Regions from separate parts of the Homo sapiens genome. Here region 2 is linked to region 1. The links come from fine-mapping of genetic effects on gene expression. A gene starts in region 1. The other region holds a variant in brackets. All regions are shown on one strand. Distances are between the middles of the regions.

What was found. PIP is the estimated chance that this variant, and not a neighbour inherited with it, causes the effect.
Region 2: its variant is the best candidate, but not a certain one, in a credible set for the expression of COL10A1 in blood mononuclear cells (TOPMed, PIP 0.74).

What each region holds. Positions count from the first base shown.
Region 1 is chr6:116,121,831-116,138,803 of GRCh38, reverse strand. COL10A1 (collagen type X alpha 1 chain) reads left to right here and starts at 12,672. Exons shown (of 3, transcript NM_000493.4): 1 at 12,672-12,751; 2 at 13,297-13,465; 3 at 16,843-16,973. The coding sequence starts at 13,312. The region is part of intron 6 of NT5DC1 (5'-nucleotidase domain containing 1); the gene reads right to left. It also overlaps the pseudogene NIP7P3. RefSeq lists a silencer at 10,344-10,638 and an enhancer at 13,928-14,097.
Region 2 is chr6:116,187,470-116,204,442 of GRCh38, reverse strand. The region is part of intron 6 of NT5DC1 (5'-nucleotidase domain containing 1); the gene reads right to left. It also overlaps a transcript of COL10A1 not described here. Among named protein-coding and RNA genes, the nearest start is that of TSPYL4, 58 kb to the left of the region's middle. The variant T/C (reference allele first, on the strand shown) is at 7,518.

The DNA of each region.
Region 1 (16,973 bases):
CATATTTAACTCATGCTAAATATACAATTCTATACAAATATAAATACTACAAAATGAAGTTCTACATGTACCCCATTAGTAAGGATTCATATATTAGTAATAATTCAAAAGTCTCCCAAAATATTGAGAAGTTTTTAGTCATACTATTCTGCCTTTTAATCATTATAACAAGCCATGATGTCCTAAAAAATAAGCATGTTTGACACTTCTTCGAAATAAAAACAAATATATCGACATTCGCACTATTTGCTTTTCAATTAGCTTCGTTTTTAATTAGCAAATTCTGAACTAGCCCATTTTAGAACTGAAACAACATAGCTCTTTCAATTGTAAAGAATTAAAAACAGTGTTCACCAATTTGAGATGGTTTGGAAAGCAGACGTAGTGGGATTACACTTTCACACAAATCTTAACAAGGAATAGCCAACACAGTAGTTCCTAGTTAAGTAGTGCTATTCTTGGAATTATACTGTTTCTCATAAATCCTAAAGAAATATATCCACAGAAAACAGTCGCTTTACCATGGTGATCTTGGCTAGGATGCTTAACCTCTAGGCCTCAAATTCTTTATCTCTAAAGATGAGAATAATAATAGTACCTACTTCACGGGGCTGCTATGACAAGTAAATGAAATAATATATGCAAAGTTGTTAGAATTAGATCTAGCACATAAGATCTTAAAATGTCAGCTATTGAGCTGGACATTTTCTTTCTTTTCTTTTTTTTTGAGCAGAGTCTCACTCTGTCACCCAGGCGGGAGTGCAGTGGTGTGATCTTGGCTCACTGCAACCTCTGCCTCCCAAGTTCAAGCGATTCTCCTGCCAAGCCTCCTGTGTAGCTTGGATTACAGACACACACCACCACGCCTGGCTAATTTTGTATTTTTGGTAGAGATGGGGTTTCACCATGTTGGTCAGGCTGGTCTCGAACTCTTGACCTTGTGATTCGTCTGCCTCGGCCTCCCAAAATGCTGGGATTACAGGCATAAGCCAGTGCGTCCGGCCAAGCTGGGCATTTTCTAATAGATTCTCACAACTCTAAAAGATAACTGGTTTTCCATATAAACAGGTACGTATTGCACACATGCATTTTATAAAAGATATCTTGGTTCAGTAAATAATAGCATTTGTCTAAGTGTCTGTTGATGGCTGAAGGGATAAAGAAAATGTGGGACTTTTGTTTCCCACTACTGAGGCACGGGGATCCAGTGTTCCAACCCAGTGGGAAAACGCAGCCTTTGACTAAAGAGGAGACCCATGTAATGTTTGAGGAGACTGTGAAATACATTAGGGAGAATCTCTAGCTGCCAGCTGAGAGGCTCAATGGCACCTACTGTTCTCGGCTGCACAAAGGCCAGGTGTACTACGTGAGTGAGAAGATTCTGAAGCTGGCACTGATATCTGATTTCCCTGTGACCTGCTTCAGAAAATTCACCAAAACCTACAAGTTTCAGTTGAACATCACAGCTCTGGATTACCCTGCACCCTATGCCAAGTATAAAGTGTGGATAAAACCTGGAGCACAGCAGTCCTTTCTATATGGAGACGATATGTTGAAATCTGGTCTGAGTCAAATCATGAAAAATACTTCTCCTGGCCAGGAAGTGGTGGTGGCAGACATCCCTTTGGGTTTTGGGGTGGCAGCCACATCTACGCAAGACTGCAGAAAAGGAGACCCCACCGATTTGTGGTATTTCATCAAGCAAACACTGGTGAATATGTGTGGCATGAAGAGACGGTGACTTAAAATGAAGTCACTGCAAGGACTTAACAGTGGTGTGGAAAGGCCCAGCTTTGTTTCCTGTGTTTGTGTGTATTCCACCATCGGGTTGAATTTTGTCAACACTATGACCTCTTCAGGTCTTCTTAGTTTATATACTATCCATCACGACAAACACAGGCTGGATTCTTCTTGTACAGAAATGGCTCAAAATTGGGGTTTCAGATTTTTGCATTTGTGACTAAATATTCTGTTTCGTATCTGAATCTGAGGGCTTCTTGTTCTGAGTAACAGATTCCAAACCGTTGGAACTAAGGCCAAGAATAGCTTATTGTTATCTGTGATAACACTTTGTTTTCCAAACTCATGATAACAGCATATGGATTTTTATCTGTTTATTAATATGAAAGATAGATACTGCCATATCAGAACAGTAAGTCACATCTGAGATTTCACAAATGAAATTTGACTCAAATAATAACAGCAATTTATAGTAAGTGTTATGTGGTGTGGAAGAAAAACTTGGGTTCAAACCCCAGTTCTGCCGCCTACCAGCTAAATGACCTTGGATGAGTCATTCCACTTAATAAGCTTCATTTTCTTCTTTTAAAAAAAACCCCACAAAACTTAAAAAAAATAGCTATAACCATCTACCTAAGAATGGTTTTTAGAATTAGAAGAATCATGATTATAAAGCATGTAACACAGTGCCTGGGAAATGACAGGTGTCAGCCCCCTTGTCCTTTAAAAAAAAAAGTGTGCATATTACATACATACACACCAACATGTAATATTATTCAGCCTTAAAAAAGAAGAAAATCCTGCTATTTTTGACAACATGGATGAACCTAGAACACAATATGCTAAGTGAAATACACCAGACACAGAAGGACAAATACTGCATGATCTCACTCATACGTGTAACCTAAAAAAGTCAAAATTCATAGAAGCAGGGAGTAGAATGGTGGCTGCCAAGGGCTGCAGAGTGGAGGGTCACAGGGAGATGTTTTTCAAGTGGCACAAAGTTTCAGTTACGTAGGATGAATAAGTTCATGAAATCTAATGTACAGCATGGTGACTATAGTTCGAGATACTGTATCATATACTTAAAATACGCTAAAAGAGTAGGTATTTAAGTGTTCTCACCAATGTAATGGATATGTTAATTAGCTTGATTGTGGTAACCATTTAGCAATGTGTGTGTATGTGTGTATATATATATATATATATATATATATATATATATATATCTGAAAATATATTGTATACCATAAATATATATACTTTTAATTTATCACTTATAACTCAATAAAGCCAGAAAAAAAATTTTTTAAGCTGAGTATTTGTGAAACTATGACCAGGGATGGGTATGTTGATCCACAGTTTAGAGTACTGCCAGCAGCATATATATCAGGAAAAAAAAATGTTTGTTAGTTGAATTAAAGTCCAATGAGTCTAGAGTAAATATTAAATATAGCTCGTGCAAAATGCTTTTGGTAATAGAAGTTATATTGTTCATCAAGTAATGAAATGGAATATTACCTAAGATTTTAATGAGAAAAAAGTTAATTTTGTCCAAGCATAACTTTGCTGAATAACAAGCAGAACTGAGGGCTCTACCAATATTATCTAGAGAACTCACATGGAGTTGTTAAATAAAAAGGTGGGGGGGGCGGTTATGGATGCTACAGAAAAAAAATGAAATATCATTTTCTAGTACTTACTTGGATTAGTATCTCTTTCAGCTCTAATATTCGTATTTTAATGATATTGATGCAATTCTCCAATTTTCATTTTATAAACTTGAATGTTCTAAAATATTTATCTAATACTCACAACCCAAATAATAACATCTTCCCCCTTTAAGGGTCATATATGTATTTCCATTCAAGAGAAGATGCTAACAGGTAGGCTGAGCAGGGAAAGAACTAATAAATGATATCAGTAGTCTGTGAGCCCATTTTTATTTCCTGGCATATAATATATTTTTAATACATTGAAGAGTTGAATAAATCAATGTATCAATAAGTAAATGGGGTACAGATGAGTAAAAGATAATGGGAAAGTGAAGCATAGCTATGTCTAAAAAGTTATTTGTTGCTCTGAAACTTCATAGTTCAGGTTTCTGAGATATTTAAAGAAATCTCTCTAAACTCCCAAGATTCTGGGCTCTTCTCCTTTTTCTTTCCATCTCAGGCCCAACCTGAACCTACCCTCTTACATCTATATCCTCCTACCATGCCTACTTTCAGAAAAACTGTCTTTGAAAAATCTCTGAAATTCTAACTTATTAGCCAGCCAGTAGAACAATTTAAGGTACACACTTACTAGAACAGCAACCACGGTTATTTTCTTTTGTGAAAACTACTTTGGGAAGAAGTTGTTAATACTAGGACCTCTACAAGAATTCCAAGTTATTATTTTAAGGTAAGGAAAGGTTTGGAAAGACTCAGGTCCAAACCAGCACCATGCGAATGGCCCTATCCCTGGGCATCCACAAGCATGAGGCAAACCATCCACCTCAATAAACATGGAAATCTGATGTCCTGACGCTCTTAGTTCCTTCATTCAGGGACATTTATAAGGTCTATGCCTTATAACAGGCACTACTTGTATAGAGTGGATTTTCAATAATAAATAACCCATAGTCCTTGAATTACGTTCAGGAAAGAGTATAAAGTATGAGAAAACACCATTTCATGATTTGGAAGATAGATTCACACAGACACTAAAGAAGTCAGAGGCCATAAGAGGCTTTGGTGTCTGGCGTTTATCTCCATGAGTCTACAGCAGGAAGTAGCTCCTGCTCCAGATTCCTAGAACCCAACCTGGCAACTGGTATACATAGAGGGTCAGAAAAAGTCTGACAATTATTTGAGAAGACTGTCTAATATCAGAGATATTTACCTCTTTGACACCAGTATGGTCATCATCACCAATCACAATTGTGGAGCATTCCCAAGCACTGTTTTGCCACTTATGTGTCATTTCACTTTCCAAAGATCCTAACATATAAAATTAAGAGAAAGTAGGGGAAGATGACAGCATGTCTAAACTTCCGCCTGATTAGCATCATAAGTGGCAAGAGTTATTTTTGACTCATAAGTTATTAAAGATAGTAAGAATTTCAGCACTAATAAGATCACTGGGGGAAAAAAACCACTATTAATGGTTATTATATCTCTATAGTATATACATTTTATTTTCTATTTGTTACATTTTTCCCAAATAGCAATTACCTTTAAAATATGAAAGAAAGCAGGCAAAGAGGAAACCAGGGTGCAAAAAGGCCAGGTGATCTGGTCAGCATTACTGGTGGGCAAGAGGCAGGAACCAGGGATGGCAGGAAGACTCACTTAGCATCTTTGCACTATTAGGGAAGAGGTCTGTGGGTGAGGTAACACAATTATTTGATCAATGGCTAAACAGACAAGGGCCCAGCATTACTGGGATGTATTTTCATTGTTAGTATGATTAAGTTAAATAGCTGCATAAGTATCCGTTTTGACGATGGGTTTCTTGGTGGTCTGTGTTGCCACACAGACCCTACAGGTACTCAGGTGCCCTATAGGTACTTAATATTCTACAGGTACTCGTGTACCCTACAAGTACTTTACTTTGTACACTATAGATGGTGACTGTGGAGTTGTTCTCAAGTACGATGGCAAACAGAGGAACAAAGAGATCTAAATAAAAAGTGTTACCCTGTGACTTCTCTAATTAACACTTTAATTTGCTATAATTTCTCCTTCCAACTTAGCAGAAACTGCATGTGAAAGCTGAAGTTGTAAACAGAGTAGGAACTAACATGTGTGAATGGTTGAGAACCCATTGGGTAGCCAAGATCCCTGAAGATCTTAGGTCAAGGGGCCAAGACATTCTATATTTTTAACTCAGCTGGGTTACTATGGAAAGCAGGTGATGTCATTAAGCACTTGGCGCACGAAACTATGAGCTCTTCAAGTAATGTAGCAATTTGTGTATAACGGAAAACAGAATATAAAGCCCTTGTTAAAACTTTGTAAATGACTCTCAGTTTTTCTTGACCTGATCTGACGTTTCAGGGGTTTTTCATAAACACCTGTTTTTATGCATGAATTTCTCTTTTCAAACTCTCAGCAGGTATCTAACCACTAAAGCACATTAGACTATTTACACAAATAGATCATTTTTAGCTTCTGGGCTCTATAATGGCACCTAAGAATGTTCTTTTAAAATTTTTTCAAGAGGAATGAGGTACAGCAAGGTGGTGGTGGAAGGTGCCCTGACTAAACTTCTCGGCACTTTTCCCATTTCTACCCTAAAAGGATGAAGGATTAGAAGAACAGGAAAGTCAGTATCCTGCCAGAACAGGGGGTGAACACATTAGCCCAGTCGCTGGTGTTTTCCCTCAGTGGGCTCTCTCGCCAACAGCTTGTCACATCAGAAATGTAACTCAGTTAAACATTAGGCCAGGGGATGTGCATAATAAACTAGTTTCCTTGTCTGAAAAATAAAATGATTGATGTGGATGAACTTTCCTGCCCCTTACAGCTGAGTCTATGAAAGAACAATAATATTCTGAATAAAGACATATGTACCTTAAAAGAAAGTTTTACATGAAAAAAAAAACTCATAAGCAAATTAAAAAGACAAATAAACTGGGAAAAATATGTGAAAACTATATCACAGAACAGAGGTTTAAGTTATAGAACATGTACAGGAAAAGTAGGCTAGAGAAATGGTCTAAGCTATATGAAAAGATACTCAACCATGCTTTCAGTAAGAAGAATGAAAACTACAACTAGACTGAGATTCCAATTTTCACCTCTAAGGTGGACAAAAATTAAAAAGTTCAACAAAATCTAAACAACATATCCTGTTGGTGATGCTGAGGGGAAACAAGGCCATGAATCCCCATTCTATGACTCTCTCCCAAAGACATTCAGGCTACATATACACCCACACACAAAGTTATTCACTATAAAGTATTTGTGTTAAAGACATGGAATCAACCTAAATACCCATCAATGATAGACTGGATAAAGAAAATGTGGTACATATACCCCATGGAATACTATGCAGCCATAAAAAACAATAAGATAATGTCCTTTGCAGAAACACATGTGGTGCTGGAGGCCATTATCCTTAGCAAACTAATACAGGAACAGAACACCAAATACTGCATGTTCTCACTTATAAGTAGGAGCTAAATGATAAGAAACCATGGACACATAGAGAGGAACAACACACACTGGGGTCTTTCAGAGGGTGGAGGGTAGAAGGAGGAAGAGGATTAGGAAAAATAACTAATGGATACTAGGGTTAATACCTGGGTGATGAAATAAACTGTACAATAAAGCCCCATGACACAAGTTTACCTATGTAACACACCTGCACTTGTACCCCTGAATTTAAAAGTTAAAAAAAAGTATTTGTATTGGCAAAAGACAGGAAATAACACAGATGTCCACCTATAGGGCAATGGTTGAAAAAACTATGGTGCATCTATACAATGGAGTACCATGAAGCTGTAAAAAGGAATGCAGACCATCTTTACACAATGTTCTGCAATGATCTCCAATATAAACTGTTATCTATAATAAAGCTGCAGTTCAGGTCAAGAAAAACTGAGTCATTTACAAAATAAAGTATGTACACTGTGATGCCATTTACTTAAGAAGTTGGGAGGGATATAAATGAATAATACATTTTTTAATAAAAAGGATAAATCAAAACAATGTTTTAAAAATAGTTACATACAGAAGGAAGGTGAAACACAGGGTGGATAGGTCAGTAACAGAGGCTACCCTTCTCTGAATATTCCTTGTTTTATAAATTTGACTTCAGAAATATACAATGTTTGCTGGAGCTGGCTTATATTGGCTCTTGGTGAATGTTCAGGTATTTTGTGATCGGGTTTTCTGGAAACTGACCATACCACGGAGATCAGCAAACACATCTCCTTCACCCTCAGGTTGGTTGTTAAACATATATCCGAACACCAGAGAAAACATATGTACTTTATGAAAGTATAAAACAAATTAAATTTAAAAAGAGCATTCATAAAAATTGAAAGCAAAATGAAACAAACCTAACAGTGAATTGAGTGGGCAGTATTACCACATTGAATCAACTGTGTCATGTGACTTTACAGCACAGTAATGCAGCTCTAGTGAAAATACCAAAAGAATTGCAAACATAATCAAACGGCTTATATTTTTTTTCAATATTCTGGTACGAATATTGGTATTTTTATTTTGAGAAATTGTGAGTATCATGGAATAAACAAATGAATAACTATATTACTGGCATGAGTACTAGGGTTTTTAGCATGGGACCAAGCAGCTACAGATACAAGATTGAGGTCATTAAGTAAACACCTGTGGTCCTGAATGTGCATTGGCTACATCAGTAAAATGTTATCATATATCTTATATTTAATGAACACCCTGTGCATACGTTTCTTAGCTGTTCACTAGATAGAATGACCAACCCAGAAGCAATGTGCATCCCTAGGACCCAGACATCCAGGCACTCAGACTGTGGTTTCTATTTCCCACAAAAGAAACTAAGAGTCTGTGGAGAAATGTCTTATTGTAGATCTGGGCCACGAAAGGTACAAAACATTAGAAGGAAAGAAGCTATAAAAAAAACTACTGGGATCATGGTCAAAAGAACTCAGGAGCCAACTGGTAGAGGAGAGGCTCTCACTGGCCAAAAATGGGGAAAAAATTCTGAACAATAGTAAGATTAATAAGTGCCACGGACTGAAACACATACAATACATTATAAACTGAATGTTTATAATGATAAACACACACACTTTCCTCACTACACCTGTGGAGGATGCTGGGAGCAGCTTATTGTTCTAAATGCTGGTAAAGGCATTTCTCCTGCTTTTTCTATACACACTGTACTTCAGGGTAATCAAATAGTTGATGAAGGGGTGTTTTTCTTTATAGAGAATATCCTAGCTAATAAATAAAATACAAATGATAAAATCAGAATATCATCATTTTATAACCTATAATAAAATATTGACTGTAGGCAATTACCAATGTCCAGTAACACCAAAGAGACACCAGCAATTAAGGGCTTCCTAACAGAAGTATATCATACCACTCTCTGTAAAGGGTTCTTGCCAAAAAATGTATTTGTGTGTGCTGTATCTGTGTGTGAGTGAATGTGTGTATCTCAAACCTGAAATCAGATGAAAACTCTAGATTTAACTACCAATCTCCACAGTAGCAAGTTAAGTGACAACAAATTCTAGATCACAGGAAATTGCATGAGACAGATGACACGGCTTTTCAACAAATAAACTGCAAGGGAGTAAAAAGTGACACAAGACACCTAGAGTAACAGGTTTAGTCCATTTTACACTACTATAACAGAATGCCACAGACGGGGTAATTTATGATGAACAGAGCTTTATTCGGCACACAGTTCTGAAGGCTAGGAAGTCCAAGAGGATGGCACCGGTATCTGGAGAGAGCGTTCATGCTGTAGTATCGCATGGCAGAAGGCAGAAGGGCAAAAGAGGGCAAAAGTGTGCAAGAGAGCAAAAGGGGGCCGAGCTTGCTTCTATATAAAGCCCACTCTCACAACAACTAACCCATTCCCACAATAACATTAATCCATTTATGAGGGCATAGTCCTCGCAACCTCATCACCTCTTAAAGATCCCACTTGCCAAAACTGTTACATTAAGAATTAAGTTTCCAACACATGAACTTTGGGGGATACATTCAAACCATGACAACAGGGATATATGAATCAACCTAATTTCAACAAACAATTTATCAATCAATAAAAAATATATGTGGATATGTATGTATGTGTTTCTATATAATATAGACATGTGTATACATATGTTTGTGTATATACATGTCTATATATGTATGTGAACTACAGGATTTGATGATATTAAGAAATGGCTGATTTTTTAATACGATGATGACATTGTTTTAAAGAAAAAAGACTCCTTCTCTTCTGGAAAAATATACCAAAATATTCACAGGTAAATTGGTACAATATATGGGATTTACTTCAAAATTTGAAGGAGTGGTGAATGAAAAGAGAATTGAGTGACAGCGAGTTGAGATCAGTTTGAATGACAGGCATATAGGCATTTATTGTAACTATTCTCACTACTATAAAAGACAAGTTTTCTGTAAAAAAGTTTAAAAAGCATATGAACACAAATAACAAAAACCAATGTAACTAATATTAACAAGGTGGTAATAGAACACTGATATCAGACTATACATTCTAACTTAGGAGGCCATCATGATCACCTGAGGAGCTTCATGAAAATATAGTCTTTGAACCACCACTATTTTAATGAACCTCAAAGGCTGAAGGAATTGTGCATTTCCCTCAGGACAGCAGGAGTGGGGAAAAGAGGCTGAGAACCACTGTGTAAACACTTTAAGGGTATAGAATATATATTATTCACCCAGTATTTATCTTAATGTCTAACACTTAAGAAGCACTTAAGAAACATAAGGTGAATTAATTAACGATCCACAGATGTACAAATGAATAGGCAAGCTTAATAGTAGCTAACTGCCAGATGTGAAAAAAATCATTATTCATATTTGATATTTAAAAAAATTACTCAGGTTATAGAGTTTAAAGAGTATGGCTCTCTGTTTTGAGTGGAATGGGTTTCCTTCATAAAGCCACAGACTAGTCACTTCAAACAGCTACAAGTAAACACCCAGAGTAAAAATAGTTTTAAATACACAATTGGGTGGGGTGTGGCTAGAAAATATTCTGATTCTACAATCTGTTTTGGACAAGACAGTGCTTCTTATGTGACTAACAAAGCAAACAGCAGTCAGATTCCTTGTGCTGAAATAAGTACACTATTTGCAAAAAGGGTTGAATGTCCAAGGCTTATTCAATAAGGACACCACATTTTCCAAAACTAAAGGGGAGTATAGAATGACAAATACCCACATATATTTACATATCCCTAAAAGAAGACATACAACCTCCTGGTATGGATTTTTTTGTGTCTCTAATAAGTACTAACTGGAGCCAAGTCTACCATCTGACCATGGAGAACAGCAGAATACCTCAAGCACAGGAATAATCTAATTTTAAAACTGGGAGGAGCTTAGAAACCACCTAGTCCAAACTTTTCATTGTGTTGATAAAAAACAGACACCCAGAGAGGTTAAAGTGAAAGGCTCTGAAAATTGTTGCAATAGCCACAGATGAACAAATGGTATACACAGGGGCATAGCACTATGTATTAAGAGCTGAGAATTAGTCTTCTGAACGTTCACGAGTGATAACTAACAGGGTATCAGTCTCAATTATAAGCAAATAGCAGTATGTGTGTGCATGTGTATCACCATATATACACACAAAATATTAAAATATATATTTTAATAATTCCTTTCAAAACAAATTCAACCTAGCATTCAAAAGCATCCATAAAGTTACCTCACCTACTTTTTCAAAATTGTGTCCAAATGGGCCATAAGCCAAAAGGCAGGTGTTTTCTCTCACTTATCTTTTGTAGTCTCCTACAGATGTAGCAGAGTACATATTATAATTACAAAAGCTATTCCATATATAATTTCCAAATGATGAATTATAAACTTTCCTATTTTGTTATTCTAAACTGCTATAAGAAACATATTTTATATGTATCTATGAGTATTATACAGAGATATATACAACAATGTAAATTTTTTTAATATGGCAATCAACAAAATGCTTACAAGCAAGAGGAGAGAGGCAATGAGATGCCTTATCCATTTACATTTCCATAAAGGGCTATACAAGGCTTTGTTTAAAATACAGAAAATTGCTTGAAGGGGAGAGAAAGGGAAAAGAAAAAGGACAAATCTTTAGTTCATTCACTGGTCAAACTTTCAATTATTTCAATTATTGATTAGTCCTGAATCCATACTACTTTAATTCTGTGGAGGTAGAAAAATGATGTGTCTATGCCTGTGTATGGAATTGTCCTCCTCAACCAGTTCACCTGCATAGTCAATTTGATTTTGATTCAAAACGATGAAATTAAATAAGATGAAAAATTTGGACTCTCAACTTCCCACCTTTATTAGATTTTTTAGGATCCTAAAAACTGATTTTAAAGGCTTCCTAATATTGTTAAACAGAGTCTAACTACCAAAATTGACAACAATAGTGTTTACTTCCACCTTTGAGGGAAAGTGTTTCTAATTGGGATGATTCCTAACTGCAAGTTAAGCCAATAATATTTTTTTTAAGCTGAAAGCAAAGTTTGAAAATTTTTTTCTCCTGAAATAAACACAGCAATCTTATGTAAATTAACATAATATGAGATTATCAAATTAAGGGGTTTTTGCAAACTCTACTGCAACTCTAAAGTAAACCCAAATTTAAGCAAGAAAATCTGAAGTCATTTACTGAATATAGCGTAGTGTTGTGAATAAGGGATCTAAATCCTAAAAGCCTAAAAGTAATTAAGAATTGGGGTCAGCTATTTTCACAAAAATTTATGAATATTAATAGACACATTGATAACTTTATGTAATAACTCAATAATTTAGATGATGGTCTAAATCCAGTACCCCCTTCAAGGAATTTTATCCGCTTTTATGTACTACCACATATTATATAATATCAACCAATTAACATAAGAATGTGCTTTTCAAAAATAAAAAGGGGGTATCATCATTCCACCGTGAACCAGCCTGAACACTAGAGTATTAATTAATAAAATAGAATCACAGACAAAGACGGTCCTTGGTTAAAACTATTAATATATATTTAAGACAATGGGTTTATTTTTAAATAAGAAAACAAGGAAAAGGAGAGCCCAGCCCGATCTTGTGTGCCTACCCAATAGAACTTTCCACCATAATTAGTGCTTACCAACTTTGAGGGGAGGAGCTTAAGCTCAGGGTAACCTCATGTAGTAAGGGAAAAACAGTATAAATACCACTGAACAGCTCTTGAGAGGCACCTTCTGCACTGCTCATCTGGGCAGAGGAAGCTTCAGAAAGCTGCCAAGGCACCATCTCCAGGAACTCCCAGCACGCAGGTAAGCGTACGCTTACTGGTGGACTTCCATGTTAACTTGCTTGGAAAGAAACTTTAAAGATTTAAATACTTGAGTTTTCTCAAGTATTAGAAGTATTAAAGTGATTTAAAAAATGGGTTTCTACTAAAATGCACTCCAAAAGTTCTTTTTGCATCAGTCTGTGGATGATAGTCCCAATAAAACCATATTGTAAAAATTTGCCCTAATCCGAATTTCAGTGTATTTTGAAACTATTAGATATTTCAGGCTATGTCAAAGATCCTAGATTATTTAATACAGACATCCAATCCTAATTTCTGTTTCTTTTCCTTTAGGTAAATCATTTTATTTTCACTTGATTACCTGAGTATAGCTTCCAAAAATAACTAAGACATATATTCACATAACTAAAAAATGATCTCTCATTTATTTATGGCACATATTAAAAATATATAGGATAGGTTAAAAAAGTAGATAACTGTATAAAGAACTCATCTGTGAAACATGAGAATAAAAAAATAGGTTAATAACAATGCTGTATAAAGTTATTCTTTTCTGTTTTTCAGAATCCATCTGAGAATATGCTGCCACAAATACCCTTTTTGCTGCTAGTATCCTTGAACTTGGTTCATGGAGTGTTTTACGCTGAACGATACCAAATGCCCACAGGCATAAAAGGCCCACTACCCAACACCAAGACACAGTTCTTCATTCCCTACACCATAAAGAGTAAAGGTAAATTGAATTGTATATTTTGTTCTATTAACAAGTTGCTTGTTGCTTTCTATAATCTTAATAATCTCTTTAACAAAATGCATTTAACTTTGGTGTTACTTTCCAACTTCTGAATTAGCCCAAATTATTACAACAAAGTGATCTGTGAAAAAAGTAGAACAAGAATATCCAATAAGTGTAGTAGAAAGGATATACTTGAAAATATAGTTGAAAGATATACCTGCAAAAAATCAGAACTTTTGTGTGTACAAATTTTTTTCTCAGATGCTGCTTTTGCACAAATAACTGCATGTAATCCAGAAATCTTGATCTAATCAAAACTAATCAAGTTTAAAAATTTTAAGCTAAAAATAACTGCCAATTGTATAAAGAAGGTAGCTGGTTTATTTAGCTAAATATTAAACATTTACTTTTAAAACTAATTCAACTAGCCCACAAACAGATATAAAACCGAGTCTTATCAAAAAAATCTGATGGCCTCCCCCCCAACAATGAACAAATGTAATTATGAGAATTGCCAAGCAGGCAAATGAAACTGCAATTCTCATAATTACTTATACATTTTGAATATAGTTTAGCGGTAAAATGCAGAGACTTAACTGTAATGCATAAGCTGTGTGACCTGAGGTAAGTTACTTGTCCTCCCATGCCTTAGTTTCCTCATTTGTAAAATAAGGAGCAGCTATCTCAAGGGCTGCTGCGAAGTTTAAATGAATTAATACCTGTAAAGTGCTTTAAGTGTTGCTATTACTTCTACTACTACTTCTGTTACTCCTAGTTTTATTTCTACTACTTTTAGCTACTAATATAGCCTTCAATAAGTTAACTTTCTTCTTGAATCTGTTGCTTACCTGTCCAGTTTTCTTGGTTACTCTTTGAAGATTACTGAGATAATATATGTAAAGCACTAAGGTTCTCAAAGGAGGGCAACTTCTAGGCCTCATATTCACTAATTTTATTTAACAGCAACTGACACGACCGCCTATAAAATATCTACAGAATAATATAAACTGACTGTAGGCTTCAAACTCCCTTTCCATAATTTTTTAATTATATATTTTATACTGTAAATAAAGCTAAGGATATTTGTTATAAAGTTTAAATATTATGCTTTTGGGAACAACCATTTTGAGCAATGAAACTTATAGAATTGTCTTTTTAAGAAGAAAGATGGAATTTAAAATATTTCACAAAAGGAAACTTAATATTTGAAAATAAATGCACAGGTATACAACAGATACTTTTGAATGTCTCAAAATATAAATAAAAATTTTAAAATTTAAAGGCTAGTAAAGAAAAAAATAAAAGACAAAGCAACCTTCCGCTTTACTTGAAGCAACAAACACAATTTGAAATGCTATGACAAACAGCACTGGATTCAATAGTTTCCATGATCACAAAAATCAGACTTTTTAACACCTTAATAAGAGCATAACAAAGTCTTGAATTAAAAAGAAAATGCACTATTTTAGAAGGTTAAAAATACTTTGATCTTCTCTTAATATACACCATTATCTTGGCTACTTTTGCAGAACAAATGAAAATATCTTAACAAATGAAAAGTTCAGAAGCTGTATTTAAACTACTAAATCCACCTTAGTCTCTTTTTAGATAGACACTCAACTACACTATCATCCATTGGCAGACATTAATGCACCATAACAAACACAAAAGCCCACAGTCTATACAAGTAAGACATTAAGTTGAAACAGGAATTCAAAGAGTTATTACATAATTCCTAGGCATATCCATCCAACACAGGTTAAAAAAGAGTTCTGTCAAAACATACTAAATTATGCTGCAGAGGATTCCACAGCTGGTGGGCAGATGCACGTGCCACATTCTGACACAACCAATCACGATTTCAGTTTGTGGCATTTAAAAAACTTAATAGAAGGAAGTAGTCGTTTTACCTTGAGGATTGTGCCACCCTAATCTTGAATGAAGAAAATTTTTTCAGATGACAACCTACAAACAGGGGCTGTCCCCCAAGCATTCAATAGAAGCCAAATTCTTTCTCGCACTGAGAAGTTGAGACCCATTAGGACAACATTCCAAGTGACAAAGTTCGCCCTGTCACTGGAGTTCCAGTCTCGGATGACGCCCAATGCACTCATTTCCATTGACTTGTTTCTCCTTTTTAATAGTAAAACAGATTTCCAATCAGACTAAGACAATTATTTTTAGTGTGAACATGACCCTTATAATCAGATTCTAAAGCAAAGCTCAATCTAACATAGTTGGCATTTTAAAAAATCCACTATTTTATTCCTCCAACCCATTAAAAAATTCCTTATTTATTCCTCTATTTGCAATATATCAATATCCACTTATACATAATATAATCATGTATGTACACTACAATCAATGAAATATTTAATATACGGAAATCTTTTACATAAATTTTTCTCACAGTCTTTTTCCTGATGTCATTTTCTGAAAATCCATGGGGAAAGCTCTATGTATTTATATTAATCAATGTTTTCAAATTGAAATATAACTCTAATTAGTAAAAAAAAATCTAAATCTGAAACAATTATTTTCCTATTTCGGCATATCTATTTTAATGATTCGCTCTGCATTTATATACACCAAATGTTTTCCAAATCTCAGAAACATCTGTACCCTGTGCTTTCCCCATACTTGTGGCCCAGCCGCATTTTTCACATCACAGGCACTATGATTTTTAGTTTAAGTTTAGTTTATCAGGTCAAGTGAACTCACAGCTCTATGAAATCAAACACTATATATTTGTATTTAGGTAAGAACTTTAATACTATTTTATGTACCTCACCTATTATGTCTAATTCTCTAGTTCTTTGTTTCAATTTTAAGTCAATAATGGAGAGTATAAGAGCTCAGAGTATATTCTGAGGTAAAAGTAAATCAACCAAAATCTAACCTGTGTTCAGCAGAGGCATGGCAGATGTAAATCAGAATTAATTCTGTTTCTCTTTTATGTCTGACAGGGTAGCTTTGGGAGGGAAAATTTTTATAGTTCTTAAACATTTTCTCACTTATTCTGCACTGTCTTTTTCTGCCTTTTCTGTACATGATTTTCCCAAAATAAATGTACTAAATTTACCTCCACTGCACTTATTCTAGAGGAATTCTTCAATCCTAGCTCATTTTCATGAATCACTGTCATGGGATAAAAGTATTATGGTAGCCATGGTTTTGTGAAACCATCTTCTCCAGCAGAATTTTTTAAAACAGTATAAAACATATAATCTAAAACCATTTCAGACTGTTCTGTCTACATGGAATAAATGATGCTGAAATATCGTGTCCCAATTCATAGTTTGAAAGGCAATGATTCTCTTTAATGTCACTAACCATCCCCTTCTATGGGTGGGTGTGTTGGGTGTGTCTTTTAGGTATAGCAGTAAGAGGAGAGCAAGGTACTCCTGGTCCACCAGGCCCTGCTGGACCTCGAGGGCACCCAGGTCCTTCTGGACCACCAGGAAAACCAGGCTACGGAAGTCCTGGACTCCAAGGAGAGCCAGGG
Region 2 (16,973 bases), 66 kb before region 1:
GATATACTAAGTGAAAGTGGACATCTCATTGTTTTACCTTGCATTTCCCTGATTACTAATTAGGTAGTGCATCTTTTTGAATCTTTCTCAGTCACTACCTCTCATCCCTTTTACATTTCTACATTCAAGGCTGAGAATGAAGTAATTACCAAAAAGCAATTTGTTGTATTCAACTGAGTAAATTGAGGGCTATTTATGAAGTTACTTTATTATAAAAATTCAACAAACACACTCTGAGAGCACTTGACAAACTCGGTGGTATTAACTCCTGAAGTGTTTCTTACCCCACCAAAAGCCTTCAGGCTCACAGCAGTGCATCGTCCTCTCCCTTACCCAGGTGTTTCACTGCAGGACCAAATTCCAAATTATACTGCCCAAAGTGAGCTGGGTCAGAGGCCACAGCCTTCGAGGGTTTTTTTTCAGCGGGTCTATGGAGAGCTGGGAATAGGTATATTTGATGATCACCGTGTGTGTGTCAGGGCATCTGTCGTCTAAAACTACTGGTGTTCTCTAAAAGGTAAATTATGATAATAATTATAGATATCAAGTGGCAAAAAATATTTCTGACAACATCAAGTACTGGTGAAGATATTGAGAATATAAGGTATCTGGAACTCACACTGTGCAAGTACTTTGAAAAATTATTTGGCAGTTCCTACTAAAACTGAACTCACAAATACACCCTATAATGTGGCAATTCTAATTCTAGGTGTAGCTCTAAGGGTAACATGTAAATAGGCATGAAAATCACATGTAAATGATGTTCATGAGGCATTATTTATAACAGTCCCCAATTAAATTAACTCACGTCTACCAAGGGTAGGATGAATAAATAAAATGTGGTGTAGTTATATTAATATAATGGCATATTGTACAGCAATGAAAATTAATGAATTACTGTGACATTCAGTAACAGGGAGACATTATAGGAGCATAATGTTGAGGAAGAGCCACTAGATGCAGGAAAATACATACTGCATAATTACATATATAAAATAAAAAATGAGACAAAATTAATCTGTGGTGTTAGGTGTCTCTCCAGGAAAGGGATGTTGGCTAGAAGGGAGCATGAAGAGAGCTTCTGGCGGACTGCAGGGCTCTATTAGCTGAAAATATGTTCACATTTAATAACAATGTATAGTAAAGTAATAATAAAGAACTGACATAATAGTTTCATGACCATGAAAATGAATCCAAGAAATAGAATAAAAACAAGTGTTAAATCAGAAATGAAAGACTCACATTAAATGAGAATCTAATACAATACTGTAAAACTGTTTAGTATAGAAAAGCAACCACTTGGTAATTTGGTTTGTTCAAATTTGCATTAAGTGACATTTTATATAACTTCACTATTTCCTGTGTCCTACCATAAAAATGTTTAATATCATAATCTGTGGGAAAAAATTTGTGTATTAAATTAAATTTAAAAAACCACTTGTATTAAGTGAAAAACCATGTTTGGAAAAGTAAAAGTTTATTATGAGACAGCCCCTCCCTCCCTTTTTGCATTACTACATTACCCCTAGTAATATTTGTTGCCTTTGTACTTTCCTCACTCCTTAAGATTTTCTAGTTAAGGAAATGTGAGGTAATTAAGAACTGTCACTTTTTCTGATTCTTTCCATAGAGCTTCTGAATTTACTTGCTCAAGTTAACAATAATAAAAATAGCTGTCATTGTCTTAATATTTTAATGTTTATCTGCAATGCATTTATGAAACTGTACACTGCAGTTCCCCCTTTCCTAGACTATAATCTCAGAATGCCATTCTTAACCTAACAAACATCATGTGACTGGATTTTCATATGACTCTGTAAATACCACTCAATCTAAACTTAGTGTCACTGAACTTTGCAGGCATCAAATTAACAGATTTGCATCTGTAAAAGAAAATAGCCTTTGTTTTTAGAATTAAAGAAATAAACCTATTGCCAATAATAATTTTCTAAAGGTTGAAACTCTTAAAGGTGGAATCAAGAACATATGGGATCATTGTTTCCTCGTTTCCCCTAAAAAAGAGTATGGCGAACAAAACTCAGTGAATTTTATTTTTTAGTGATGAGTTTAAGAACTTACAGCTTTAGATTTAAGTGGGCCAAAATTGAGAAGGAACTTTGTTCTGCTACTGATCTATGTATTCCAACCATGCTAAGCATAAGAAAAAAAGGTACTACAGAAATGTTTTCTCGAAAAGAATAGCCAAGTGTGTGCAAGGAAGGCCCAGAGCTAAGGTAGGGGAGCCTGCATCACATGGAGGATTCCTACACTGTCTAGACTGGTGCTCTAGCAGGTATGGGCCACACGTGGCTACTTCAAGTTAAATTAAGTAAAATTTAAGTCAGTTCCTGCAACTCCCTGCCACATTTCAAGTGCTCGGTAGCCACATGTGGTTAATGGCTACCACACTGGACAGCCTGGATATAGACTATTTCTTCACTCCAGGAAGTTCTATTGGTCAGCACTCCTCCAGGTGTAAATTAACTTTATTTCACAGTTCCTAAAATTATCAGCTGTAGGTGCATAAATCTACCAGTGTGGCATTTGGATCCAAATAATAAGCAAACATGATTTGGTCCAGAAATAGAGCATTTAAAAAAGTAGAGGCAATAATTATAATCATGAAACCATGCCAAGGCTTCAGTGCAGGCTAGAAGGGGAAATACTCTGCCCAGAATCAAGTGGCTTAGGCTGTACACCTGTGTTTCTTTCGGCTGCATGTCCTTGCCCATGACCTCACATGTCAGAAGTGGCCACATATTACCTTCCCGACTTCATGGGTGGGAAGGGATGTCAAACAAGCCTAAATAATAGTAAGCACATGTTGTTTGCCCTATTATCTTTATATTAACCAAGACTTTTAATATCATCAGTAAACCTGACTCTGGCAAATGCTCACCTCACTGAAGTTCTCAGAACTGAAAAGCATTACCGAGGCAGTCCCATAAGTCACTGGTCTCATTAGGGAAATTTGATTGGTCAATTCTTCTCCACCAACGGATTACAGAACACTACTCTATATACTGGAGTGATTCTAAATTCAATTTCTGTAACAAACTATGTTCAAATACATACCTTTATACAGTGCAATATGCCCAGAATGAATAAACAATACTGTTCACTGAAATAAAGGTGGTGGGAATGACTTCCAATTACACAGTTAGTTATAATGGCTACAGCCAAAAAGGCAAGAGTATCATAGAGGTAACTAATTGTAGTTACCTATATTAAACTTTTTTATCTGCTCATGTATTGTCCCTCCAAGATTTTACATGTGGTGACTCATTCTGAAGGATCCCCTTATCTCACCTTCTTATTCTGCACACATCTAGGTGCAGTACCTCTTGGGCAAGTTGGTACTTCACTCCTATTGGGCAAGTTAGTACTTCACTCCTACTGGGCAAGTTGGTGCTGTGGGGTGCTACCATAGTACCTTCCCGCTTTTTTCCATTCCTCTTGAGAACAAAGAAACTAAACAGAGAACCTTTCAGACCTTGGTTAGAAAAAAGCACTGGTAAGTTGTAAGGCAGCTGTATTTCTGAGTGGGTGGGGGAAGAAGAAGGGAGCATATGTGGATTTCCTCAGAAGAAAAAGTAAACATGGTCTGCCACAGGATTTATGCCAAGAAGGTGAAGAACTGTTATGTGATATCCTTCAGTTTCTTTAGCTGGGAACCTGAAACTGCTCCAAGCTAGTGGGAGAAGAGATGAAGTACGATCCATAAGGACATTAAATATCACCCAGAGAGAGAAGTTGAGGAATGACTTCATGAATAGACTTTTAAAACTAAGGGAATTATATACCAGAGCTCGATAATATCCTTCTGGATAAAATAACCATTACTTATAATAGTGTCTTACCTTTATTTAGCTATGCTTTTTAAAATAAAATTTTAATTTTAGTAGTTTTAGATGGACAGAAAAATTACAAAGATAGTCCAGAGTTCCCATACACCTCACACTCAATTTCCCTATCAATATCTTTCAATATTATGGTACATTTGTCACAATTAGTGAAGCAATACCAATACATTATTATTAACTAAAGTCCTCACTTCATTTAGATTTCCTTAATTTTTACCTAATGTCTCTTTTCTGTGCCAGGATCCCATCCAGGATACCATATTACGTTTACTGGTTATGTCTCCTTAGGTTACTCTTGACCGTGACATAGTTTCAGACCTCCCCTGTTTTTGGTAACTTTGACAGTTTTATGGAGTACTAGTTAGATATTTTGTAGAATGTCCTTCAATTGGGATTTGTCTGACTTTTTCATTAGACTGGGTTATGTGTTATTGGGTGGAAGACCATGGAGATAAAGTGCCACTCTCATGTTATATTAAGGGTATATACTATTAAGGGTCACTGTTGATGTTGACCTGGATGATTTGGCCAGGACAGTATTTGTCAGGTTGCCCCACTGCAAAGTTACTCTTCCCCCCCCACTTTCCATACTGTACTCTTTGTAAGGAAGTACAATGCACAGGCTACCCTTAAGGAGTAAAAATTCATGCTCTACCTTCTTGAAGGTAAAATGTGTGCATAAACTATTTTGGAAATATTTTGTGTGGTAGATTAGTCTCTTCTCCCCATTTATTTACTTGTTAATCACTTATTTATACCAGACTCATTGATGGTTATTTTATACTCTGGGTTATAATTCCATACTACTTTATTTATTTTGTTCTCAAATTGTTCCAGCATTAGCCATTGGGAGCTCTATCCTTTAATTCCTGTGTCCCTTTTACACACCTCCATCATTGTAATTTTTAAAAAGCATTTATTTACTTCTGGCACTACAAGATGCTCTAGGTCATCTTGTATATTTCCTGCCCCAGGCCTAAAGTCAGAGATTTCTCCAAGGAGCCCTGGCTTCTAATACTGGAGAATGGCGTTAGAAACTAAGATCTGAGTGCTAGGTGACTTCTTTGTTTTTTAAAGATGCTTTTGTACATACATATTTCTCTTTCCACAACATTGATGACAGATAGGTAAACTAAGGCTTAGAGTAGTTAAAGGATTTGCTCAGTGCCAAGGCTAATAATAGCAGTGTTGGAATAAAACTCAGTCTTCTAATGGTAGTTCCCTGTCCTTTGACTATCTAATGTCTTCTGGATGAGAACACAGCATCAAAGACCAGATTAACAACCTATAAGAAAAGGAAAAAGGCACTTCCAGAAGATAGTCCTTTCAGAAGGTAAAATTTAATAGGCGTAACTGACAAACTCTCTTGTCTATCTAGAAGAAACAACTGGAGAGTCTGTCTTTCATGGAAAGATATTTTTATACATTACGGCTTTTGACTGAGGGTGATTTAGCTCCCCTCACCCCCCAGGGACATTTGGCAATTTCTGGTGGGTGGAGGGTGCTGCTACTACCATCTAGTGGATAGAGGCCAGTGATCTTGCTAAACATTATATAATGCACAGAACAGCTCCTCCAACAAAGAATTACCCAGTTCAAGATGACAATAGTGCTAAGGTAGCTAAAGGAATAAATACTAGAAGATTCTTCATCTAATTTACACTGTTTATATTCTAACTGAATTAGTTTTCTATTGGTGGCTATGAGGGATCACCATGGAAGACTCTGTCTCATTCTGTGACCTCATGAGTTAGCCTATCAGAAGAAAAAGTCCCCACTTTGGTTAAGAAACATGGCTCTCAAATCAGATAAGAGACTCCTGTAGTCCTTTTTTTAAAAAAATATTGTTTAGAGACAGGATCTTCCCCTGTTGCCCAGGCTGGAGTGCAGTGGTGTGATCGTAGCTCATAGGTAACTTTGAACTCCTGGGCTCAAGCAATCCTGCCTCAGCCTCCCAAGCAGGTAGGACTGCAGGTGCACACCACCAGATCTGGCTATTTTTAAATTTTTTTTCTAGGGATGAGGTCTCATTATGCTGTCCAGGCTAGTCTTGAACTCCTGGCCTCAAGTGATTCTTCTGCCTCAGCCTCCCAAACTGCTGGTATTATAAGCATGAGTCACTATACCCAGCCACCTGTAGTTCTTATGTATGGGACGAATAGAAGAAGGCATGCTCTTTAAACAAGCTGCTTGAGTCAAGCAGGGCATGAGCACAGTTACATATAATGGTCCTGAAAAGGAAAGGCCTATCTCCATATAAGCCATCATTTACTGGCCACATTGACTGTTTTCTGTTTCAGGATCAAGCTGTGTGGAATAGTTACGTGGCTTTGAATGAATGGGTGAACCTTACCAAGTAGATGGCTGTTACCCAGAAACTGTTGTTCACTACTCAGTGACCTCAATTTGGAGAGGAAGTGAGTGACTGAATCCCTATTTGTTGATGTGGTGACCACCCAGCACTTTGACAGGAGAAATAACCCTTTTATTTACCAGGATCTCTCTTGGAAGATTTAGAAAAAGCTTGCTCACTCTTGGCACTAGCAAGCTGATGAAGGACATTTTCTGAGCAAAGCTAGGTGCCCTGGGGCCATAAATTGCCACTGCCCTCTATGACAAAATTCAGAGAGCTTTGGTGGCAGCCCTATCTGGGGTGAAGCTATTTGTGGAGCTCCTAATGAAGTAGACATGTGTATATAAAGTAGTCAATGCACTGGCATGTCTGGTACATGTAAACGCTTCTCAATGGTAGCAAACATAAAGAAGAAATGTTTACCTAGCGCTTTCAATCCATCAGTCCTTGTGCTAAGTTCTTTATACATTATCTCACTGAATCTGCATAACATCCTATGAGATAAATACCATTATCAAGTTTATTTTCACATGTGGAACTTAAAAGTAATTGTGTCAATTGGCCAATGCTAAACAATCAAAAAGTAGAGATGGTATTTGAATCTCTAACAGTCTAACTCCGACATTTGGGTGCCTTCATTACTGTATTATACTGTCTTCTATCTGCACTACAGCAACTAAAATTATTGTTATTAACCGCTGTACCTGGCTGTTTGTTCTTAAAACTTGGGTGGCAGAGGTAAAAGGTGGTGAAGGTCAAGAATGTTGATTCTTGACCGGGAAGATTCTTCCCAGTATCTTCCAATGATTCAATTCTGCTTAGCATTTTAAATCAGACAAGATGATAATCAGAGACCTAGCAGAGAATCAAGGACTTTTTGTGGATTTTGTAAAATGTTCAGTTATAAGTCTCAGTTGGCCACCAGTAAAGGGAATGGTGTCTACAAACTATGGATGGTATGTGGTTGAGGACAAAGCTGACATCGACATCATTAACCAGGCAAAGCAGATCCGTGGCCAGATGCCTATGAAGATTCATGCCTCTTCAGACCCTAGGTAGAGAGCAGAAGATAGTAGAGGTGAGGAGGGCAGCTGGCCCACTACAAATGGAGAAAGGAGGTGGGGGTGGACAGGAGATCCTGCTTCCCGTGACCCTCTGGCTCTGAGGCTATGGCTCTGATGGACACACACAGCTGTAGAAGAATGAGGAGCCCTCAGACACCAGGTCTGCCAGAAATGAAAGGAAAAAGAGCTGGTCAGATGCAACTAGATAGAACTCTGGAGAAAACATGGCTATTCCAT[T/C]TGAGGATATCTCCAACACCAGAGTAGAAGAGGGGAGGAAAAGGAAGTATCTGCTTTCCCTGTCTAATGAAGAACGGTGCCTGGCTCATGGTAAGCACTATGTGAGTGTTAAAAACAGCATACACAAGGCTGCACAAGTAGAAGAGGAAAAGGTGGAGAGAGTGAGCCAGCATTCCCAACACCGCAGAGTTAAGAAGCAGCAAACACAACCCAGAAAAAGTCAGCAATGCTGGTGAAATGCTCATAAAATGTCATAGCAGACACAAAGAAACACTATTTTGTTTAGTGTAATGAAGCTACTCCTCCTGTTCCCCTGACCTCAACTTTCTATATACTATATATAATTTGATAAAATAACATCCAAATAGTTTGAGTATTTTTCTAATTGATATAATTTCTTTGTGCTATTAAAAACCAAATGGCAAAGAGAAAACTTTTTTTTCCCTAGATCAAACTAATCACTAATAATGGTTGATTTATAGTTTGGGGAAAAATTTAGAAAAGATTTAAATGCTATTAGGTAAAACTGGTTTAAATTTTGATTAACTGAACTCTTTCCCATTGTGTATATTTTGTTGCTGTAGTTAGAGCAATGCAAAAATTCAAAAACATTTAAGGATTTAAATGTACTTTTAGGAAATAACAAATGTGATATGGAAAATATAACTAATCTATCAGTTAAAAAATGGAATTCCTGAAGGTCATTGCTGGGTGATTTGAGGTTTAAGTCATCAAGGAAGTTAGATGCTTATGGAGTAGGAGTAATAAGGAAAGGACGACTGTCCTTTTGAGATACAATCTCACTCTTGTGGATAGCATGATGTCAGGAAATAACAGAATGTCAGGGATAACAGAATGTCAAGTTTAGCCCCTTAACAACCCGACAACACCAACCAATGAGTGTTACAATAGGTACTCAAACAAGTACTAGACAGATGGATGGAAGAATGAATAACTGACCAAAATGCTCATCATCAAATATGGTTAGAGGCAGGAATCTCTCTCCATCTCCACCTTCCCCCTTTCCAACTTGTGGCTTAAAATAGCTTTTTGGTCTCTTCTAAAGTTACTGTTAGAAAATAGCATCTCTTTGGTCTTCAGTCCCCACCCACAATCCCACCATCTGTTCTGTGCACATTAAATTTGCTTAATTGCTACTAGTTGCTATTGTTGATCTAAATCTGCCTACACTTCAATCTTAATGAATATATTTAGCTAACAAGAGAGTCTACCATATTCTAAAGATGTGCCTTTTCCAACCAAAAATTTAAAAGCTGTTCTGATAGCCAGCCATCTTTCTAACCCCTGATTATGTACATTTGAGGGAGGGAGCAGATAAATGATATGAAAGTAATCATTTCAAATACAATCATATATAAAGCAGAATATATGGATTATCATTGGAATCCCTGTATTGAACTATTCTTAAAAATGAATATTTTAGTAATGATTTGGTCACAATTTGGCCATGACCAACCTAATCTGGTAAACTACTATGACCTCTTGAATAAAAAAAAAGTTAATTTAATAAAAAAGTTAAGGTAAACTTAATAGAAAAATACAGAAAATGGTGTTTCCAAAAAAATTTCCAATGTTTGAGTCAATTAATATTCTCCTCTGTATAATTTTAATAGCGAAATTGTGATATAAAATATTGGTATCATGCAAGTTATTTTCTAAGCAGTAGATACACTGTTTCTCTTACTATCATATGCCTATATTATAACTTCAGTATGTTTTATTTTATAGAAATTAACCAGATTGACATTTCAGTGAACAAGAGAACTAACAATGAGATGATATAAAATATAATGTGACATAGGCTGATCCTAGGCTGGCAAGCAAAAACAATTCATGCTACCTAGAAGTCAAAGCAGAATATAGAGAGAGCGGTAGAGTATGGATGGCAGGAAGGTGAAGGTGAGGTAACTTTAGGTTTGAATAATCACTGTATATCTTCCAGATTTGGGGATGGCAAATATGCCACAGTATCCAACTATGACTTTTGGTTATCAGTACTTAGAAAAATATGCTTGTATCAAACTAATAATGTAAACCATAAAAATATTACAACAGTATGTAGAGTGTCTTATAATAGAAAAGAATAGGTTCTAGCTCCATACCTGCCCCACTTCAGCATTGTACCCAAAAGCCACTACCTTTAGTCATTTGTTTCTAACTCTTCTGATAATTTACATTCAAAACTCTAAATAATATAATTATACTTGTAGTTCTTAGTTCATAAGCCATAAACAACATCTACTGACTTCCCATTAAGAAATAAAGAGAATTCACATTATCCTTTATTATTCTTACCCCTCCCTCACAGTTGTTATAGTTTTATTCTTTTACTGGCCACTGCTAACTTTAAACAATATACTTCAGGTTCTATCTGTTCAATCAATTTTTAACTCCCCACAACATAAAATAGGCTATTAGTGATTCTCCCCTTCTCACCAATTCCCAGTCCCCTTCCACATCTTAGCCTCTGACTGCCATTTTTTTCCCGAAATTGTCAACTACCCTTTCTAGGCTTTGTTTCTAAGTTGTTCCTAAAAATTAAAGGTAAATAATCTGTTTACTCTGTTATGAATATAAATATTACTTGTTGTGAAAACAAGTAATGTGCTAGAATTGCATTTCTATTTTTAGAGTTCCATTTTTATAAACTCCGTCATTTGAAAGAACATGTTACTAGAATAAAGATCAAATAGATTTCCTTTTCTTAATTTTCACAACTGCTCAAAATCATGTCACATTTTTTGTACATTCTGATTGGACCATGACATCATTCTACAATTTCTTACTTTACCTGGAGTTCCTAATTGCTTTTACTTTATTTATTGTTGACCAAATATTCTTTTGTTGTTGTTGTTGTTGAGACAGGGTTTCACTCTGTTGCCCAGGCTGGAGTACAGTGGGGTGATCATGGATCCTGGGCTTAGGTGGTCCTCCCACCTCAGCCAACCTAGTAGCTGGGACCACAGATACATGCCACCACATCTGACTACTTTCTGTATTTTTTGTATTTTTTGCCATGCTGCCTAGGCTGGTTTCGAACAACTGGGCTCAAGTGATCTGCCTGTTTCGGCCTCCCAAAGTGCTAGGATTATAGGTGTGAGCCATTGTGCCTGGCCCAACTCCTCTTTTTTTATTTTTAACAGTATAATTATATGTTTAAGTCCAACAACAAAGATGAAAGATTCAAGGTTTATTACAGCAGAGTTAAAATTAAAGCACGCTTTGAAAATACTCTTGTTTTTAAATGCTTACACAAAGACAACCATTTGCTCATACTGTCCCTTAGCACAGAGATGAGACATATTCTGTGTATATTAGTGACTTTCAGTTTATGAAACATTGCTTGCATATATTATTTTATTCTCTCAATCCATAAATTAGGAAATATCTTCTCCATTTTACAAAGTAACTTAAAGTTAGAGAAACAGAGATTTAGCCAAGATCACACAGCAAGCAAGTTGCAAGTTCCAGATTTGAAATCAAGTTTTCATTTTTCAAACGTCAGTGTTCTTTGCTTCCACCACAGCTTTCTAACACACGGGCTCTTCCTGCCTTTTGTTTAAAAGTAAAACATCCTAATTTTTTATTTATAGGTTTTGTTATCACAGCACTCCTATAAGGAAAGCACAATATCTCCACTTCTTATTTATTACTGGATACTATGGGGCAAGATTTTAAAAAATAAACAGTGAAAAACTGGCAGAACTAAGAGTAAAACACAAATAAACTAAAAGGCCATTACACAAAGAGTTGCTAATAACAAACTGAATAGTCAAGAAAGGCCAAAAGTTCATAAGCATATTCTCAGGTAATATATGAGAGTCTGTAAGGCACGGAGCTATTCTGTACAGCTTTAGTAATGCTGCATTTACATAAAAAGGAAAAGTGATCCCAACAATACTCTGACAAACTAAGTATATCTCATACAAATAGCTTCTTGGCAACAATCCTGGCTTTTGACTTTAAGGTCAAGCCAAACCAGAGACCAGTCAGGACAACTGGGGTCTGCTGAAGATGCAACGTGAGAAAGCAGGGGAAGTTGAGACTAGAAAAGACACACCTTCCAATAGTAGGAGGCCAAAGAAGCAGGTTTCAGCTTAATACCAGGAGGAAATCGTAATAGAGGAAATGTGCACACAGAAATAAAGACAAAGTATTAGTACTCAGACCAGATAGATTCTGGTTAGTTGAAGTTTTACACTCTCTATACAGGTATAAGGCAAAACCTCAAAATTCAGTTACAAAGTTTTGAACTTCATATTGACTTTTTATAATATACAAAGTAAACATTCCTTAATGTACTTTAAGATTTGATTTTTGACTTTATATCAAAAGAAAATAGTTTAGGAAGTTTTGCTTTTTAAAAACAATACCTACTTAACAGAAACACAGAATCCAATTTGAGCAACATAAAATGTCCATTTCAAGTCTTTCATCTGTATATAGTTAAACCCTAGTACTAATTTTCTCTTTTTAAAATAATGGAGGGGAATATGTATAACCCTTTAAAGTAGAAATGGCATCTTAAAAGAATATTCGAGTATACCCAAAACGGAAATAATGCCTTTTCATTATTAATATTATCTGCTGATATTTATTGAGAGCTCCTCACTATGTATTAGGCACTGTGCTTAACATAACACATATATTATCTCACTCATAATACAACTTATCCCAATTTTAAGAGCAAACAGAGACTTACAGAGGTTAATTAACTGGCAAAATCACACAGTTAACTCTGAACTCACACCATTTCTTAAACATCACACAGACTACCACTCTCTCTAACCACCTAATTAAGTCCACATGACAAATTCTTAATCATGATATTAATGATTACCAAGTTTCACCTAAGTAATGGGCTAACGGGAGATTAACTGGATGAGTTTCATAAGCCTGCATCCTCATCCTCATGTTTGCTCGTAATTTCTACCTCATCTTTGTTCTGTCCAAAAAATCATGGCAATCAATGTAGCTTACAGGAAGCAGCAAAACTGATTTGATTTATCACTGATAATGCCTCCTGTTCCCTTGTTGGTGGGGACATTAATGAGCAATGAGAACCAGGCAGCCTTAAGGTTTGGGGAATACAAATATATAAATACTGTACATCAATATACACACTTTAAGGATTGAAGTATTAGGAGAAACACCTCATTAGATAGTAATCCTAGAAACTTATATAAACTACATTATTACACAAAAAAGACAATGTTATTGACTCTTTTTAGCAATGGATTTTCTTTACAGTTAGTTTAGACAGACTGTATTTTCCTACTGCACTACATTTCATATAATTGGTGGTATCACGTACCTTGAGGAGAAAAGATGTGGCTATTTTAAGGTATAATTTATTACATAAAAAGCTTTTTTGAGTTAGACAGTGATTGTTGAAGGCTATTTCATCTATCAGTAAATATTTATGAAGCACTTACTAAGTAGAAACCTCTTACACTGTAAAACATTTTTCCCTCCTCTTCTTTCCCGTGAATCTCCTCTCCTTCCCCTTCCAGAGAGAAATGGGGGCCATCACACAGTAAGTACAGTAGGGTTTCTTTTGTTTGTTTGTTTACTATGGTTAACATTTTTTAAAGACCTCAGATGCTCTTCCTTGTTTTGCATCTTGAAGCAACTTGTCCTTGGAGTTTGGGTCAGAGGTACAAATTCTTGCTAAACTACAAAGGAAGGGTAGGAGTTGTTTATTTCTCTTTCTTTATTTAGGATATCGACTTCCAGAGCTGAATAAGGTTACATGAGTAGAATCACACCCTACATTAAAAAAATTGGTTTCCACAGATATTTGCATTTAACTCAGGAGTTCAGAGACTCGGGTGTTGGCTGTAGTTCTAACAACAACTCACTGTGCAACTTCGGGGAAGTCACTTGAGGCCTCTGAGCCTCAGTTTCCTCACTTAAAATAAAGAGCTGGAGTTAATTTCTCAAGTCTTTTCCAGTTCTGGAATACCAGGATTTCCTTGTATTCATCCTTATAAACAGGGGTAACCACTAATGAGAGCCATGTAGAAGCACCACACAGAACCCATCCCAACGAAACTGAGAACCTGTCTCTGGCACCTTCTTGGATTACTGAAATCCAGCAGACCTGTCACTTGCCCCCTCAGCAGAACGATTCTTTCCAGACGTTTTACATACCACATGACTCTCACAGTTCAGTTGTCAAGAATCCAGAGACCACTACATTTTTGGCAGCTTTGCAGGTCTGAAGTCTTTCCTGTTTGATTTTATTGACGATCCAATAAAGCAGAGTTGTGTAAAAGTAGAGGCTTTCTGCATGGGGTGTTTACCCCCACAACCACTGTCATCTTTTCCCTCTCAATTTAATTTTAGCTGTGTAAAAAAGGGCAACTAATGTGATGGGAGGTGGGGGGATGCTTGTTTTGTTTTCTCCAGATACCACTGCCGCTAACTTCTGTAACCTATCTACTGTCTTCCTCACCTCTCATCCCTCATCCAAGTAACTATCCACATTTCCCCTCTGTTTCTAAGTCTACTAACAAAACAACTTATTTTGCTCTTTCAAAATAAGAAATATAAAAAATTGCTTCCTTTTATCATATGGTAATAATCTCATTTTTTAAGGAAAAAGACAGTATTTCATATATTGATAAAAGAAAAAATACATAGATAATTTAAAAAATACTGTTTTGGCTCAGGGAATGCTGACTTTCTAAGGTTGAGAAGTGTGGTGATGGGAAGAGGAGAAAATGAACATATGTTGACCAGCCACTATGTAACAGGTATGATATAGATATTACATCTTATGTAATATCCACTACAAGCTCTGTGATAGATATTGCTATTCCCATAAAGCTGAAAAAAGTATTGACAGTGATTCAGAGAGATGAAATAATCTGCCCACATTAAACTGAGCCACTGTACTTTCCATTATATCATTATTGTGCCACTACCTGAAAACTAGTAAAAGAACAACAAACATTTACTTCTTTATTGAAATCAGTTAAAAATCTTAAAAGGCAAAAACATACATATAGCATAGTATACAATAAGAGAATTATGTGCTTCCCCTGAACGGAAGCATTTAGCTGTAACTAAGTAACTGCTGTCTACCATTACTTCATTCTTTTCTAGTTCCTGCATATGAATGGATTTTTGTATCCATCTTCTATTAAGGATGCTGTTCTATTAAAATCATTTTTTTTTCATCCTCAGAACATTTCACCATGGCCAACTATAAATATTTACTCTCATTTGACAGGCAAGGGCCTTTTAAAAATAGAAAAACAGTCTGCATAACTGGTTTAAACTTTTGAACTTTATTTAATACACAAGAACTATAGAGAACCAGTAGTCTCAAGCACAACTCAATGTCATCCAATACTCATTCGTTTATATGTTCATTTGTGTCTTCTCCTCCTAAATATAAAAAGGTTCTAAATTGCTTGCAAAATATAGTTAGAAATGAGAGGGAGGTATATAAAGAATAAGTATCCCAAGCTAAAGAAAATCAGAATAAAATGTCAAGACTACGAAGACAAAAAATAAATGTAAATATACTGCAATACTGGAACTATATGTAAGTCTCAAATCGGGTTGTGAGCTTACTAGCCCTCAAAATGAGGGAAAAAATATACACATGCACAATCAATTACACAATTCTAAAGGTTTACAAGAGAAAAAAGTACCAGTTAATAAATAGAAGTAAAACTTTTATTACAATTTGTACCTAAAATAAATTTCTCAAGAGTGGTCAACTAAAAAAAAGAACAAAATTCAAGTAGGAAAGGTATTACTACTAAACATCTCATTTCAACTTGATTAAAATAATTATTAAAAAATCAATTGCAATGAGAAAACTGATAATGACTTTAACTGTGAATATACAAGGATACAACTTCTAGAATTTATAAAATCTGTTTTAAATACAGTGAAGTTCTAATGTGGGGCCAATGATAATGTTTTATTTATCCATTCCAATTATAAATTAAACTCCACTCTGCAAAATGGTAGTGAAGCTTAATTATAAATAAACAGATCCAAATTAAAAAACAGAGTATCAGCTATGAAATAGGCCTTCTCTCCTTAAATCAGAAGTTATACATAATCTTAAAAATTATAAAACATACACACACATAGAAAAGACAAAAAACATAAATCTGTGCTTTGGTTGAAATGTTATAAACATTCATGTAATTGCTAATCAGGTAAAAAAAAAAAAAGTAGAAAATTTCCAGGATACCAGAAGTCCTCTGATACCACCCTTGAAAGGTAATTGCTATCCTCATATCTATGGTACATCCTTACTTTTCTGGCTTTACTACCTAATTATGCTCTAGTGTAACCCATTTTAATATCTATTTTATAAATGCAACCATAGAATATGTATATCCTGTATTACTGGCTTTTTCTCTCTCATTTTCTGTTTTTAAGATTCATTCATGTTGTTCATAAAGCTTCATTTTCATTGATGAATAGAATGTCACTGTATGACACACTGCATAGCAACTGCACTATTGAGGGATATTTGGGCTGTCTCTAATTTGGTGTAATAGTGAATGCCACTAAGAACATTCTGGATGGTATATATTGCAGCCTAATATGGCTGTGTCATAGGGAATGCTCACTTTCAACTTTATAGGATAATACTCAACAATTTTCAAAACCAACTCAACAATTTACACTCCCACCAGCAGTTTAAGGGTTCTCTTTGCTTCACATCCTCACCAACCACTGAAATCACTAGATTCTTTAATTCCAACTATTCTGATGGATATCTAGTGGTACCTCATTGAACTTTAATTAGCACTCTCATGACTGTTAATAAGCATAAGCACATTTTCATGTTTATTGGCCATTTAGAGTTCCCTATTTGTAAACTGCCTGTCAAGACTTTTGTTCATTTTCTACTGGGTTGCTGTCTTCCTGTTACTGATTTATAGGTCTTTTTTACACTAGATAAAAGTCTTTTTATCATTATATGTATTCCAAATATCTTCTCTTCTATAACTTGCCCTTTCGTTCTTAGTAATTTTTTATGAAGAGAGACGTTTAATGTTTGTCAAATTTATTCACTTTTCCTTTACAATCAATCAATACTGTTTCTATCCTATTTAAGAAATATTTCATTATCTTTAAGCTATGAAGCTATTTTTCTCAGATTTTCTTCTGATAGCTTTACTGATTTGCCTTTCATATTTGTTTCTATAATCCATGTGAAATTGATTTTTGTCTAATATGTGAGTAGGGATCAAGTTTTATGAATTTCTACATAGATTTCCAACTCTCCAGGCACCCTTTATGACAGTCCTTTCCCCACTGCTCTGCTGTACCTGTTCTGTCATCAAGCATGTGTCTACAACTGCAAAGGTCTTTTCTGGCATCTCCGGTTCAGTGATCTTCTAGTTGTCAGTCTTTATACCAAAAGCACTCTGACCAAATTACTGTAACTTTAAAATA